Regions from separate parts of the Homo sapiens genome. Here region 1 is linked to region 2. The links come from fine-mapping of genetic effects on gene expression. A gene starts in region 2. The other region holds a variant in brackets. All regions are shown on one strand. Distances are from middle to middle. Region 1 holds the start of SAMM50 (SAMM50 sorting and assembly machinery component). Region 2 holds the start of PNPLA3 (patatin like domain 3, 1-acylglycerol-3-phosphate O-acyltransferase).

What was found. PIP is the estimated chance that this variant, and not a neighbour inherited with it, causes the effect.
Region 1: its variant is the best candidate, but not a certain one, in a credible set for the expression of PNPLA3 in blood mononuclear cells (TOPMed, PIP 0.62).

Annotation. Positions count from the first base shown.
Region 1 is chr22:43,952,895-43,958,262 of GRCh38, reverse strand. SAMM50 (SAMM50 sorting and assembly machinery component) reads right to left here and starts at 2,821. Exons shown (of 15, transcript NM_015380.5): 1 at 2,665-2,821. The coding sequence starts at 2,685. It also overlaps the pseudogene RPL35AP36. RefSeq lists enhancers at 2,077-2,286, 2,092-2,843, 2,967-3,046, 3,127-3,176, 2,844-3,596 and a silencer at 2,729-3,003. The variant A/G (reference allele first, on the strand shown) is at 2,792.
Region 2 is chr22:43,920,992-43,926,349 of GRCh38, reverse strand. It overlaps PNPLA3 (patatin like domain 3, 1-acylglycerol-3-phosphate O-acyltransferase), which reads right to left and starts at 2,545. Exons shown (of 9, transcript NM_025225.3): 1 at 2,252-2,545. The coding sequence starts at 2,438. RefSeq lists enhancers at 1,243-1,985, 1,986-2,730, 4,147-4,647.

The sequences.
Region 1 (5,368 bases), 32 kb before region 2:
CAAAACAAGCCAAAATGTAAATGGCACCAAAGGAAATGGCACGGAAAGGCGAAGCCCATCCAAATGCAGGGGATAAAGAACTTTCAGAACGGAGTTCTAAAAGATGGGAATATTTTGATGCTAAAGATGGATGATGGGAGGGGGAATGAAGTGCAATAGTGCGGTCCAAATAAAGCCATCCTCACAGGGCTAACAAGAATTCTGGACAAAGGCCAGGCGTGGTGACTCATGCCTGTAATCTCAGCACTTTGGAAGGCCGAGGCAGGCGGATCACAAGGTCAGGAGATCGAGACCATCCTAGCTAACAGTGAAACCCCGTCTCTACTAATACAAAAAATTAGCCGAACATGGTGGCAGGCGCCTGTGGTCCCAGCTATTCAGGAGGCTGAAGCAGGAGAATGGTGTGAATCTGGGAGGTGGAGCTTGCAGTGAGCCAAGACCGTGCCACTGCACTCCAGCCTGGGCACAGAGCAAGACTCTGTCTCAACAACAACAAAAAAAATTATTCTGGACATCTGGACAGAAATGTAGTTATAATTGGCTGGGCGCAGTGGCTCACACCTGTAATCTCAGCACTTTGGGAGGCCGAGGCGGGATGATCACTTGAGGTCAGGAGTTCAAGACCAGCCTGGCCAACATGATGAAACCCCCGTCTCTACTAAAAATACAAAAATTGGCTGGGTGTGGTGGCGTGCGCCTATAATCCCAGCTACATGGGAGGCTGAGGCAGGAGAATCGCTTGAACCTGGGAGGCGGAGGTTGCAGTGAGTGGAGATTGCACCATTGCACTCCAGCCTGGGCAACACAGTGAGACTCCATCTCAAAAGAAATGTAGTTACAATTAACCATTAATCAAGTTGCCTTTTTTTTTTCAAGAGCACAAATCCACATTGATTTATTGACTTTTCATTAGTTTAAATCCTTGAGGGGTACAGCATTACTCGGATTCTGTGTCCAACAGCCTTAGCAGGAAGATTGCTTCAGAATTTGGCACGAATCATGCCATTGTTTCTGTGGGCCCGAGTTACCTTTCCCCAGATTACTCTGGCTTTGTTTGATTTGCCGCCAGGAGTCACTATGTTGTTCTTTGCTTTGTATACATGAGCCCAAATAGAATTCTGTTTCATCTCGGGCATAAACACCTTCAATTTTAAGAAGAGCTGTGTGCTCCCTTTGGTTCCGGAGACTCCACTTATAGCCAGCAAAAATGGCCTTGGACCACAGCCTTCCAGACATATTTCCTTTCAGAAGTCCTGCTCCCGGCAGGCCGCCACAGGAGCCAAGATGGCAGGAAGAGCTCAGGTTGCACTCTGACCTACTTGCTAGTAACCAAAAGTCACAGATACTATTTGCATCCCCATTGATTTTACAGATAGGATTTCTAAAATTAGAATCATAAGGCTTTTGCTTAAGAGTTGCTTTAGATGTTTTTCAGATCTCGAATTCCAGCAAAACTGATGCTGCCAACCAGTTTGAAGACTCCTCCCCGCAACAGAGGAACGGAATCAGCATGAGAAGTTTCCTCATCTCCCTGTCCCATAACTTCACCCTTCACTCTTCCACCAATCAAGGATCTCCACACTTCAGCAAAAACATGAGGTCCAAACTCCTGAAGGAGATGGATTTGAGGTTTCCTCTCTTTTCCCATCTCCTCGTTCAGCGGCCCTGCAACTGAAACTCTTTCTCTGCTGCAACCCACTGTCTGAGTGTATTGACTTATCGAGCACACTGAGCAACAGACCTATTACAGTTACACAAAGAGATGTCAGAAGAGAAACGGTGTTTGATCTGAATGAAAGACATATAAAGGGAAGTTAAGTCCAATTATCGATGTCAGGCTGCGACTTCTGTGCTAAATTTTTTTGGAAGTTAATGGGGAACTACTGAAAACGTCTATGCAGGTCAAGTGAAGCAATCAAAGTTGCAGTAGAAAAGTAGTGTTGGGGCTGAGACTCAGGAAATCTGAGGTTTTAGGCCATTTGGAACCAGTAACTATGTGACCTTGGAGAAGTAACTCATTATCTGGCCCTTATTTAAGATTAGGATAAACGAGAGGAGTTTGGCAACCAGTACAGTTAGTCAGGCGCCAGGCACCCAAGTATTCACATGCATTGTCTTTTAATTCTCTTTTAAGCCAGGCGAGGTAGGTACTATTACTACCTCCACTTTAAAACAGGAAGTAAGGCAGAGAGCGGTTCCGTCTTTTGCACGGTAGACAGGAGAAAAGAGGACCCCTAGATAGGTTTGAGTTAGAAGACTTCAAAGGATTCTTGTTGCTCTAGGAGCCTACAATGGCTCCAGCAGCGGCTGAGCGGGGAAAGGCTGGAAGTGACCAGTAAAGAGAGAAAACTTAAAATCATGCAAAGAAAGAGCACATTCACTGCGGTCTAAGACATCACAGAAAGTTGGCAAGTCCTTTGGGCCACGGACTCGCCGAGTGACCTTTAGCCAAGTCTCGTCCCTCCTATCAGGTTCCTGCTCGAAGGTCTGCAAGACTCGCTGGCCCGAGGCGACCTCTTTTCGGCCTCCTCCACCCAGCCCGGCACCCTTGGCACCCTCTCTCCCGGTGAACCCTGGGCGCAGCCACGAGAGCGTCTCCCCGCGGCGCCCGTCTGCCCTGCTGGCCCAGAGGCCTCGCAGCCCGCGGGTCGCTGGGCCTCTTACCCGGGCGTGCACAGTCCCCATGGTTCCCTCTCCAGCCGCTGCCTCGCAGAGCTGCCCGGGCGGGACAGAGCGTCTGCTGCTGAGGGCAGAAGGCGGGTCCGCGGTGGCGGAGCTGCAGGTCAAGGCA[A/G]CTCCCACAAACCCCCGGACGCGGAACACTGGGGGCGGCCATGATTCCCCGCCTTCTCCGCGCCCCCTGGCTCGCGATGCCTTCGCTCATTGGTCCTTATGCGCCTGTGACCCGGATGTTCACACGGCCGCGGAGGACGTTCTGACTGCGCAAGCGAAGAGCGTTCACTGACATCCGCGAAGCTGCTGGCGCGTGGACTGTGTGGGGAGGGCGCGTGGGGTGAAGGTGGGTCTGCGAGAGGGTCCGCTGGGAGGCTGGCGTCTGGCGTTGGCGCCTGAAAGAGATCAGACCAGCTGTTGGGTGTCACTCAAGTCCTGCTGCTCTTAGCCCTCCTAGCACCCCCGACCCGAGGGTGCTGTGCTTGTGCCCACGCGCCGGTGAAGCCCCGAGACTCAGCGGGGAGACCCCGGGTCCGGCCACCCCCGAGCTGCAGTAGTCGGGTCTCACCGGCATCTGCTACACAAACCCGGATTGGTGCCCTGGCTCCTTTCGTTCAAGTCATTGGAACCCCCACTCAAAATCGTCAAAATGAAGACGATGGTCGTGTCTCCTTCTTGGGGGTTGGATTAAAAGGGCCTAATGTGAGAGACGGAAAGCAAAGCTCCCGGCACCGGGCCGGGCACACGGTGGGCGCTAGATAATGACCGCTATTCACTCAACTGCAGCCAGTAATTATGGGCGAGGGCCATCTAGGTGCTTGCATGAGAACCAGTCATATCGGTGAAGAAGACGGCCATGGGCTTAGGTTTTGGTGGCAAAACAGCTCCCCTGCCCCAAAAAAGAAAAGAGAATAGAAAAGAAAAAGGCATAATAAATATCAGCCACACATTGTGATAAGTATATTGAAAGAAACGAGACAGAATAAGAAAAGAGGAAGCTTCAGTATCCTGTCACGTTGCCACTCCCTTCTGATAACAGAAGCATCTTTTCTTCTGTCCCCTTACTCCCTCCCAGAAACCCTGACACCCTTTCCATTTAAATAGCAGCACCCTAGGCCTCCAACATCCCTGAGCTAAATATTCAAGTCCACATGTCCCTTCTTGCCTGGAAAGAGACAGAACCCAGCACCAGCCAGGCCCCTGCCCTTCCCTCACTCTCAGTTCCCTGAGCCTCAATTCCTTATCTGTAAAATGGAAATGATAGCCTAAGGCATAAGGTCTGAGGACCTCATGAGATCAAGCATGGGGCCTGGCACTCTGTAAACATCGAATCAACCAGATTTTCTTTGCCCAAACAGCCCTCTTTTCTTACACTTTCTTCCTCGTTATTCTTCTGAGTATGCCACTTGTAAAGGATAAGCCATGAGGTTGCCCTGCAGAGTGCAAGATGGTTGCAATATTTGAGAGCCTATTGTGTGTGAGGCCCTGGAGGATGGCAGAGGGAACAGGAGGAAAACAAAGTCACATGCTTTACCCTCAAACAAAGGGCTGTCTGCGATAGTTACAATGTATATATTAAAGGCTATCTGTGATAGTTACAATGTATATAATATATTAAAGGCTGTCTGTGGTAGTTAACAATGTGTATATTAAAGGCTGTGATAGTTACAATGGGTATACTATATTAAAGGCGGTGGTAGTTACAATGTATATAATATATTAAAGGCTGTGATAGTTACAATGTACATAATATATTAAAGGCTGTGATAGTTATAATGTATATATTAAAGGCTGTCTGTGATGGTTATAATGTATATAATATATTGAAGGCTGTCTGTGATGGTTATAATGTATATAATATACTGAAGGCTGTCTGTGATAGTTAAGATGTATATATTAAAGGCTGTCTGTGATGGTTACAATGTATATAATAAAGACTGAGAAGTCTCACAGTGCATATACTGGTTTCCTTCTCTTTAACCCAGTATTTCTTGAATTTATTGGGTCATAGAGATTTTTGGTTTTGGAGATTTTTCTGTGGCCTCTGGCAATGCTATTCAACAGTATTTCTTGTGCTCCTCTTTTGGGCACAAGAGAGGATTGCATCTCCCTGCTCCCATCCATGTGACTTGCTTTGGTCAACACATTGTGAGCAGAAGAGAGATGTGCCACTCTGGATGAGAACCTTTAAGAACCATATTTCTCTAACCATGCCATGGCAATCAGCGATCCCCCAATGGTGGGGCACCTACAGGCTAGGTCTGGGAGTGAGGACGACTTAAAATGAAGCCCAGCCACATTTGCTGGACATACAGCACGAATGAGAAATAAACCTTTTGGGTTTTGCTTGTTAATGCAGCATAACTCAGCCTATCCTATATGATAATACCAGCTAGAAACATCTTCAAGGAAACCAGCATCCCAGAAAACCTGGTTTACAAAGTGCCAATCTTGTCCAATCAGAAGTAGAAGTGCAGTTTAGTGACTAAGCTAGTTTCCTTAATACAATCCAGGCTGAGTGCAATGGCTCATACCTATAATCTCAGCACTTTGGGAGGCCGAGGCAGGAGGATTGCTTGAGCCCAGGAGTTCAAGATCAGCCTAGGAAACACACCCCATCACTACAAAATAAAAATAAAAAATAAAAAAAATAGCTGGGCATAGTAGCAAGCACCTGTAGTCCCAGCTACTCCAGAGG
Region 2 (5,358 bases):
TGCACTCTCCTGGCATGCAAGACCACCCCTCCCAGCCCAACCCCTGGCCAGCCATAAATCTTGGGATGCACAGGGACAGGCAGGCCCCAGCCTGTCCTGACCCAAATCTGATCTTGACTCACAGCTCTCCTTCCCTGAGTGGCCAGAGGGGTGGAATTGCACGTGGCTGGCAGGTTCTGCCTGTCCCTCCTGCCAAGTTAGCCTCAGCTCAGATGCACTGAGGTGCTGTGTCCAGGATGCAGCCTCTGGGACATGCTCAGCAGCCCCCAAGTGCACAGCCCTCTGTGAGACAGGGGGTTAAAGCAGGAACCTGGAGCCCTGGAACCCAGGGAGTGGCTCCTGCCAACGCCTCCAGATCCACCTTCCAGGGACTTGGTGGTTCCTGAGCCTCCCTGTGTCCTGCCTGGGAAAGCCCCAGGCTGCACCTGTCCTCTGCCCAGTAAGGAATCCTTTCTATACCAGAGTGAGTGTACTTTAGGCTCCTGGGACCTCTGCATTTGAATTCTGTCCCAGTGTAAACATTTGTCCATGTGGGTGTCCACAGGCCACCTTGGGATACAAAAAAGCTGACTTTTATTGTTGCTAAACCCCAGGGTGTGCAAATGATCATGTGGCGGTCTAATCCTCCTGGAGGCCACATTTCGTGCCCTTTGCTCCTCTCCCCCTGGCTTAGGGGAAGGCAGACAGCCAGGACTGTCTAATCCCTAATCCCCACCTCCCAGTCAGCCCAGGGGCTGCCCACTGCTCCTACCCAATGGCAGGGCTTCCTCTGCCCGCTTCCTCACCACTGAACAGTCACTCCCTGCTGGCTCTGGCAGGCAGGGCAAAGAGTCCATTGTTAAGGAAGCCCAGATAAAAGGGGGCTAATGGGGGCATAATCTCCTGCCTGGGGACGTCTGGGTGTCAATAGCTTCACAATGCTACTTGCCCCAGCCCCTGCCTACTGGCTCACAACCCCCTCCTCGCCTCCAGGACTGTGGCACACAAATTCCCAGGAAGCATACCACACCCCAGTAGTTCCAGCTAGTGAGAAACAAACCCTCCGTCTGCACCCCCACCACACACACACAGGTACCCACATGGACAAATATTTCATTAGGACAAGATTCAAATGTACGGAATCTCATTTCCAGGAGTACTGAGCCGGAGAGGGGAGGGTGGGCCTAGGTCAGTGGAAACTAGAGAAGAGGATGGGATTGGGGGGTGTCCAGGGATGCACTCCAGCCCCCAGGAAGGGTCCCAAACACTGGAGGAGGAGGAGGAGGAGGAAACAACTTTCCTCTTTCAAGGTACCCCTCCCCACTAGACTCCAGTTAGCCTGCCCTGGAGGATGCCCAGGGTTGCCCTTCTGGGAGGCTACCCAGCCCCCAGAAGGCTGGGCTGCGACCCAGAGAGCGTAGGCAGCAGGGAGCAGTGGCTCACGCCTGTAACCCCAGCATTCTGGGAGGCCGAGGTGGGCAGATCACGAGGTCAGGAGATCGAGACCATCCTGGCTAACACGGTGAAACCCCGTCTCTACTAAAAAATACAAAAAATTAGCCGGGCTTGGTGGCTGGCGCCTGTAGTCCCAGCTACTCGGGAGGCTGAGGCAGGAGAATGGCGTGAACCTGGGAGGTGGAGCTTGCAGTGAGTTGAGATCACGCCACTGCACTCCAGCCTGGGCGACTGAGCGAAACTCCGTCTCAAAAAAAAAAAAAGAAAAAAAGAAAAGAAAAGCGCAGGCGCGGGGTGTCTTGAGTCCCTCAATCCCCAGAGGGAAGGAGCCCACCGTGGGGGACCGGCCAAAGCCCCACTCTTTGTCCGGCCCAGGGCAAATCGGCCCCTCGGCAGCTCAGCCCGTCCAGCCCCTCCCGAGAGGACACAGGGGACCCGGAGTCCGCAGGGGCCAGCACTACCCTCCGCCCCGGGTCCCGCTCCCTACTCCCCGTCGCTCCGAGACGCTCCGACTCTCAGTCCGGAGGTGAGGGTCTCCCTTCATGCACGGGCGCCTGATGGGGGTAGGGGTGGGGACGCACGAGAGTCCCAGGCTTCGGCCCGGACCGCTCGGGGTTCCAACGCCCCCTTCCCGGGCCCAGGAACAGCGCCCCCGCAGGAAGCATCTGCCTCGGAGGGGGCCCTCGGGATGCACCCCGCCGTGTCCGCGTCCGATGCCCGCTCCTCCAGGGCCCCGCGACCCCTGGGGATCCCCCGCTCCCCGGCCTAGGGGGCACCCACTCCGCACGTGGAGCCCGGGCAGCGTCCCCAGACGCACCCAGCGGGATACCGGAGAGGACGCCGACGCAGTGCAACGCCCCGGCCGAAGCGCCGAACAACATGCGCGCGTCGCGGAGGAGGTGCGGGGCGTGCTCGCTCAGGCAGCGGGTCGCCCCGACGTGGTAGAAGCCCAGGAAGCCGCAGCCCGCGAAGGACAAGCTCCAGCCGCGCTCTGCGTCGTACATGGCGGCGGCGGCGGGGCGGGGGCGCGGGTTAGGATCTGGGTCGGGATCGGGAATCGGCTCGGGTCCTGATCCGCAGCAGCTCCGCCCGGCGCCCGCAAGCGCTCTCTACCCTGCCTCAGTGTCTCGGCCAGGGCATTCCCAGCGCGACGTCAGCCCCGCCCCCCTCGGACCATGCAAATGAGCCGGCGGGAGGCCCAATGAGCGGGCAGGACGCCCTCCCGGGCGGGGCTTGGAGGGGGATGGGGGTGGGGACGACGTCTGGCGGGGGATGGGGGCGGGGACCGGGTCTGGGAGGGGGATTGGGGGCGGGGGCTGGGAGGGCGATGGCGGAGGACCTGTGCGGGGGGGTCCAGCCTGGGAGCTCCCCGCAGCGACTCGAGAGAAAGCATTTTTCCAAAACTCCAGCAGACACTGCATGTCCTGGAGAGAAACGGCTTCCTTCTGTTTTCCTTGACATCTGTTAAGTCGGGGGGTGGGAGGGGAGTCGCAGTTGGTGCCCACTTGATCCTTAACATCACTTTAACACTTTATCACGTCCCTTTTGACCCGGGGAGAGCCAGCCTAAAGCAGGCACCACCACCTGAAGAGTCTACTCTCTGCGTTGTTGCAGGCTTTCTGTATGATTGCCTTCAAGTGCTGGGGATTTTTTTCATTGAATGAAAGTAACAGGAAGTGTCCATTTCAAAGTTTCCTTTGTAAGTAAAAAATGTGAATGACGGGTGCTGGGGCTGGGGTCGGGGCCCTGTAGGAACTGGGGAGTGGGGAGTGCTTTGGGAAGCTGAGGCCTGGATGATTCCTGGTCCCTTAGTCCCTTAGTCCGTTCAGGTGCGAAAACAAAACACCTTAAAGCGGAGGGGCTTACAAACAAGAGATTTATTTCTATCTTTTTCCCCCCAGGCTGGAGTGCAATGGCACGATCTTGGCCCACTGCAGCCTCTTCCTCCCGGGTTCAAGGGATTCTCCTGCCTCAGCCTCACGAGTAGCTGGGATTACAAGCATGCGCCACCATGCCTGACTAATTTTTTGTATTTTTAGTAGAGATGGGGTTTCACCATGTTGGCCAGGCTAGTCTAGAACTCCTGACCTCAAGTCATCACCCACCTCAGCCTCCCAAAATGCTGGGATTACAGGGGTGAGCCACTTCGCCTGGCTTATTTCTCTGTCTCACAGTTCTGGAGGCTGGAAAGCCCAAGTTCAAGATACCAGCAGATTTGGTCCCTGGTGAGAGGTATGGCTCGTAGAAGGTGCCATCTTGCCACATCCTCACCTCTGGGCCTCTTTGATAAGGGCACCAATCCCATTCATAAGGGTGCCACCCTCTCATCAAATCACCTTCCAAAGGCCCCCGCCTCCAAAGATCATCACCTTAAGGTGTAGGATTTCAACAGATGACCTTTAGTGGGGACACAAACATTTGGATAGTAGCATGCCCTTAGGAGATGCCTAAGAGGCCCCTTGACCTTGACCTACCCCTGGCACTGGGTGGAGCAAGCCCACAGCAGTACATGGAGCCAAGTTAGACCTTGGTCCAGAGCTCCTCACTGGAGGACCCTGGTCTGCCGGGCCATAGCGCCCCCAGCTGGAGTGGACCAGGAAGCCCTCCCCCTTCTCCGTGAGACCTGGAGGAATGCAGAGTATGTGAGCTTTGGGGTCAGGCCTCTGCCCTCTTTGTGGCTCAGTGTCCTCAACTGCAGAATGACTGGTGGTGTTGTAAAACAGGTGACATTGCTGTCAGGATTCCAAATGTCACCTGAGAAGCACCTGGATTGGTTGGGTGGTTCATGTTCAACTGAGCTTCCCCATTCTGCTGCAGTCCTTGCTTTTGCCTTGCCTGGAGGGGTAGGGGAGCTGGGAGCAGGGCTGCCTCCTTTCTCTGGGCAGGAATCCCAGGGCATGGGAGCTTCAGGCCTTAGTGAATACCTGGGCTGACTGCCTCATCACATAGACACTTTGTAGATGGAGGCCCAGAGCAAGGCAGGGTCAGGTCCTAAGTCCCGGGGAAGGTCAGGAGAGCTGAGAAGCAGACAGGGGGTCCCATCTATTCCTGACGTGTTGGCTTTGCTGGAGAGGGGCATTACCTACAGTCCTGCCCTAACTGCCCTCCACCCCCACCTCACGCTCAGGGCTGCGGCGGAACTGAGGCTTCTGGAGGGGACAGCTGGGGTCAGAACCTCTAGCCTCCTGTACCCATCCATCCCTCCTGCATTGCATGACCAGTCTTAGGACTAATGACAGGAGGGCCAGGCTCTGGCACAGGAATTTGAGGCTGTGACCGAAGGCCCGAGATGAGTCACCCTGCCACCAGCCACAGGCATTCATATTCTCTTCCTGTCCACCGGCATTCATTCTTGGCCAGCCACACTGGACATCTGTCATCCCCAGTGTGACCCAGATGTGGGCAGGACAGGAGCAGGGCTGAGGACTCACCCCCTCTTCGTCACTGCATGTAGACAGCAGCTGGGGGCCCTCCCCACTTTCCAGAGACAAAGAGAGGACCCAGCTGGGCAAGGGTTTCATGGTCCAGCTCTCTCAGCCCCCCATCCAGCCTCCAGTGGGACAGGCACATGATATCATGGTTGAGACTGCAAGCTTTGGCATCAGACAGCCAGTGCACAAGACTCGCAAGCATCATTTCATCTCTCAGAGCTTCACTTTTTATATCTGTACCATGGGGGAGAAAACAGTTGTGTGAGGGGCATTGTGAAGTTAAATGTGATGAACAGAAAGCACCCAGCCCAGTGCCTGGCAGTACTGCCCTTATCCCTGATCCCATCTCTCTCTCTCTCTCTCTCAGTCCCTGTCTCTGTGTCTCCCACTCTCACTGCTACGCATAGCCCCATCTGCAACTGGGATCCAGCTCTTGGCTGCCAGCACAGAGTTATAAACATTTCTTATCTTGAACTCAGTGTTCAGGCCCCAG